2 separate regions of the Homo sapiens genome follow, and region 2 is linked to region 1. Evidence: fine-mapped expression QTL. Tissue or cell type: CD8 T cells. Region 1 holds a variant in brackets; the other region holds the start of a gene. All regions are shown on one strand. Distances are from middle to middle.

Region 1 (2,626 bases):
CACAGCATCCAGCAATTCGTCTCCTGGGCGTACACCCAAAACACTGAACAGGGTCTCGAGGATACGTCTGCACACCCATGCTCAGGGCGGCCCCGTCGGGCGGGCACCTTCAACAGCAGGTTTGCTTGCGGCTCACTCCAGCTCTAAGCACAGTGCCATGCGTGCAGTAGGTGCCCACTGTGTGCGCAGAAGGACAGCTGGCGGAGCAGCCGGACCAGCCCCCACGATGGGTGGGGGGCTGCCGTGGGCACCCACTCAGCTGGTCCCGGGTGTGAGAGGGGCCGCTGTGACACTGAGTCCCACGCGGGATGACCTTGGCGACCGGAAGCCTCTGCACTTCCAAACCCCGCTGAGCAGCCCAGGTCAAGCATCAGAAAATCAGGGAAAGGTTCTTTTTTGTCTCTTAAGAGTTTTGCAGCTCTATAGCCTCTCTCCTTCCAGGAATCAGGTAACAGGGCAGCGTCCCGCAAGGACCTTGGGAGCTGGGGCTGTGGCTGCCCTCTTGGTGCCTCTGGGGAAGGAAGGAGGGAAAGGGATCACGGTGGCCGTCGGAGTTCCCTCCTGCAGCCTGGCCACCCGTGGCTTCAGACCGCACCTGGGGGTGTCCCAGGCTTTGGACACTCAGGGACGTGGACTCAAGGGGTTGCCGGAGCCACTCAGCTAAAAAAAAAAAGCACCTCACCAGGAGTGGGCGTGGCCGCATCTGCCTCTCCCTGTGACCATTTCATGGTGACCTCTGTTCAGGAAACCCCCCGAGGACAGGCCCCTCAGCCTCAGGAAAGAGCCAGGAAATACACATCCGAGCTTATGAGTTTCCCTTGAGTTGCGTCAGGTCCATAGAGAAAACAGGCGTCTAAGTCTGTGATGGAGCCCCCCACACGGGTTTATCCGGGTATAACGGATAAACGCCAAGCCCGGGCCGTTGGGACCAGCCTGAGCTTCCCTCCAAAGTCCCCGCAGGGCTCATCACCACTAACAATAGTGACAGCTAAGGCTGGCTGTG[A/T]GAGGGGCTGTCTAGGGCGTTCACCTGCACCAACGCCCCACCCAGTCCCCACCTGTCCTCCCTCATACATGGGTGGTCTTGGGAGCCCAGATCACAGCCCGCAGGCGGCACAGCTGTGGTCGACCTGGACGTAGTGGCCAGCCGGCCCGGCCCCGACCTGCCAGAGGACCCTGCGGGATGTGTCCAGGGACTCCCAGCAACCCGTCCCTGCACCCTCACGCTCACCTGTCATGACTGGCTTCCCAAGCAGGGTCCCTGGAGGCTCTAGCAACGGGGTGTGAGCACACTTGTCACCATCGAGTGGGGCCGACGCTCCCCCAGCGTGTGTGTGTGTGTCCGTGAGTCTGTGGTCCACATGCGTGCTGCACCCCACAGCAGGGACGGTTGGCTCACCAAAGTTTGTGTTCAACCAACTCTGGATCCAAAACGCAGCAGGTCCTTCAAAGGTTCACCCCATTTAACTTGCAAGCGGCTCTTACGCGGCAGGTGCGGTGATTCCTCATCCTGCGAGCCGTTCAACCAGGGCGAGAAGGCCTCCGCCTCGGCAGAAACAGCCCAAAGCTGCACCTTGCCAGGGCCACCTGGTGCAACGAGGCTGTGGGCTCCTTCATGCCATCTCTCAGAGAGGCAAAAGCTGGGATCCTGTTAATAGCATTCTCTGTGGAAAACACTCAGCCTGGGGCTAATGTCTGGCGCGCTCTAAGGCGGCTGAATCCCTGCGCCCCGGCCACCTCCACTGCCCTGGGCCGAGCTGAATCCCTGCGCCCCAACCACCTCCATGGCCCTGAGCCGAGCTGGGCGTTCACAGCCTCCCTGAAGCTCAGCTGCGTGGCCACGTGGGGTTGCACGTCAACTGGGAACTAGGTGCAGCCACAACCAGGGAGCCAAGGCCTCGGATGTGTGGAAATCATTGATGGTTTCTGCTAGAGACTGTCCTTCTGGTCACGGGATGCCTTTTCATCGTTCCTCCCTCATAGAAAATACTCTTAGCTGTTCCCAAAGGAGACGGCCCAGAGTGCCTTCCTCTCCCGACTTTAGCTCAGAATCGGGGCATCTGCCTGGGTTCTGCCCCACGTGGGCCCAACAGAGTCTCCTCACGGACGGAGGCCTGTGCACTGAGCACAAGCCCTCCACTTACCCTCAGCCCTGTCCACCAAACCCTCAGCACTGTCCCACCAAATGCACAACAGCAGACAGGACACCTACAACAAAAGCGCAGTCCAAATAAAGGGTCGCTGCTGCAGTGGCTGTGCAGCCTCCGACACTGTGACCTCTGGGGAGGAACGGTGCAGACCTGGCCTCGGCAGGCAGCTCCCTGATGAGGCCCCAGACGTGCTCCCCTGAGGGGCCAGGAGGGATGCTCTGGGCTCTGCCCTCCCGTCCAGAATCCTCCATGACTTCCAGGCCACGTGTTGGGAGTCACCTTCTGAGCATTTCCCAGCCTGCACAGCCCACTTTCTGCAGGGTCGGAGGGTTGGTTCAGGACTTCCTTCTCAGCATTTCCCAGCCTGCACAGTCCACTTTCTGCAGGGTCGGAGGGTTGGTTCAGGACTTTAAGCCAGATTGCAAACGCACCGAAGGCGTCCAAACCAGCTCACCAAGCCTGTTCCTTGTGCAGTGACC
Region 2 (2,500 bases), 95 kb after region 1:
CCTGCAGTAGCAAGAAGCCCCCCACCAAGAAGGCAGGCACAGCTTTGCAGGCAGCTGACCGTCAGGTCTGCTCCTAAGAACCTCGACACTGAATTCACAGCCTGCCAGCCCTGCTTCCAGGAGAGGGTCATGAACAAGGTATTTCTGGTGCTCATTAACATACGTGAATGTCCATTTTAGAGCCTAGCATGTGACTGCTTAAAAACTCTTAGGTCATTTTTAACCTGTGAGCTGATCAGGTGACAATTCCCTGGTCCTGAAGGAGAGGGGGAAGCCCACGTGCAGTGTGTCCCTGAAAAGGAAGACTTGAGACCATATTTTTCTCCACATTCTGCCTCACTGAGAAATTTTTTCTTTTTAAGCAATTGTTTTATAACTATAGTTTGCCATTATCTTTTCATTTCAAAGGGAAAAACATGATTATCAGTTTTAAACATAGAGAAGGAAAAAAATTCATCAGCGCCTGAATTAATCCAAGTAACACGAGATTCATGTCAAAAACCGCCACTCTTTTCATTATGATGATGATTACACGGTGAGGGTAATGAGCTGGGGTTTGCAGGAAGCAGGAGCACGCTTTATTTTCTAACACTTCCGTTCTAAGGCACGGCCAGGTTAACCAATTCTATTTATTCTCCTCCTGTCTTTGGTACTAATGCTATCACAGAATTTAATAAGCACTAGGATGCGCCCCACACCTTAGGTCCACTGAAGGTAAACACCATGACCTCCGTCTCTCAGATGAGGACACAGTGGCTCTGGGAGGTTCTGCTGTACTTTTCGGTGAGGCTGCCGGAGCCGGCTGCAGCCCCACCCCGGAGCCCTGGGCTAGGACCCCTCTGAAGAGCTGAGCGGCTCCTACTCACTCACCAACAGGGGCTCTGCTAAGAACACGAATCCCTGGCTGGGCTCGCCTCCGCCCAGGACCCCAGACACCAGGTGGGGCCTGGCAGGGCCGGCCCGACCAGCAGCCATGCAAGCAACAACACGGGCGAGGGGTGGGCCGCGGTCCGGGGTAAGAGCGGGGGATGGGTAGGGACTGGGGTGGAGGTGGGGAGTCGGTCTGGGTTTGGGGTGGGGCCTGGAAAGGGGCCGGGGTCGGGGTCCCGAGTCAACACCGCGGTCTGAGCCGAGAGCCGGGTCTGGGGTCTGGGCAGGCCTCCGCACCGCACCCACCTACCGTGCTTCCTGTGCGCCGCCATGCGGGACCCTGCCGCGGACCTCAGACCACGGCGCGCGGTCCTGAGCTGAGCGCCGTGCCTTCCGGGTTCCGCCCTCCTGGGTCCGCCCACAACAGCAGGAATGCCCAATCCGAATACGGGACCCCGCCACGGGCGGTCAGTCAACTACATCACGGCCGTAGATTGGCTGATATCGAGTCTGTAGGCGTGTCGCGAGGCTCCAGACCCGCCTCTGGGAGCCCCGCTGTGGAGCATGCGCGGAGGGAGGGCTGCGGGGGCGGCGGTGCGGGCTCTTGGGGACCTGAGGACGCTGTGAGAGCGCTGGCGGCGACTGCTCTACGCGGTGGCGGAACTCTGGGGGCGAACGCTAGGGAGGGCGTTGTGGAGAAGAGGGGAACGGAGGGCCCCAGAGGAGAGGCGCCCACCCCCAACCCCACGGGTGCACCTGCGGATCCCCAGTCCCCGCTTCGCCCCCAGGCACCCGCCGGACACAGGGAATGGCCAGGGCAGTGCCCCCGGCCCCAAGGCACCTGCAGGATACAGGGAGTGGCTAGGGCGGTGTCCCCGGTCCCCGGGCACCTGCGAGACACGGATAGTGGCCCTGGCTGTGACCCCAGCCCCCAGGCACCTGGAGGATATAGGGAGTGGCCAGGGCGGTGACCCCTAGCCCCTAGGCACCTGCTGGATACAAGGAGTGGGCAGGGCGGTGTCCCCGGCCCCCAGGCACCTGCAGGATACAAGGAATGGCCAGGGCGGTGTCCCTGGCCCCCAGGCACCTACAGGATACAGGGAATGGCCAGCCGGTCCCCAGACACCTGCTGGACACATGAGTGGCCAGGGCGGTGACCCCAACCCCCAGGCACCTGCTGGACACAGGGCATGGCCAGGGCGGTGTCCCTGGCCCCCAGGCACCTGTGGGACACAGGGAGTGGTCAGGGCAGCGGCCCCCACGTCACCCCGGCTTGCCAGACCCCTTCTTGTCTCCCTGTCCAGCTCCAAGGGCCTCTGCCCTCCCGCTCCACCCCCTCAGGACCCTCCTCCTTGAATTCGTTTCTTCCAAAACATTTCCCAGGTGTGTGCCAGGCGCTGTTCCTCATGTGGGCTGTCTCAGGAGAGGAACCCACGGAGATGGGTGTTTTGGAGGAAAATGAAGCTGGTAGGGCCTAACTGTAGAGTGATGGGCGCGGGCTTGAGGTAGGTGAGGGAGCAAGACTGGGGGTGCCCAGGGAAAGAGAGCCCACAGGAGGGAAACGATGTCCCAGGAGAACGGCTGCCCTGTTTGAGTTTGGGGACCAGAAGCAAGGGCAGGATAAGGGGAG

The links. PIP is the estimated chance that this variant, and not a neighbour inherited with it, causes the effect.
Region 2: it holds the start of ERICH1, and the variant in region 1 is fine-mapped to the expression of ERICH1 in CD8 T cells (Kasela 2017, PIP 0.95). The same link has a PIP of 0.9 or more in CD4 T cells.

Annotation. Positions count from the first base shown.
Region 1 is chr8:634,440-637,065 of GRCh38, forward strand. It overlaps a transcript of ERICH1 not described here. Among named protein-coding and RNA genes, the nearest start is that of TDRP, 91 kb to the left of the region's middle. The variant A/T (reference allele first, on the strand shown) is at 1,004.
Region 2 is chr8:729,960-732,459 of GRCh38, forward strand. ERICH1 (glutamate rich 1) reads right to left here and starts at 1,265. Exons shown (of 6, transcript NM_207332.3): 1 at 1,181-1,265. The coding sequence starts at 1,202.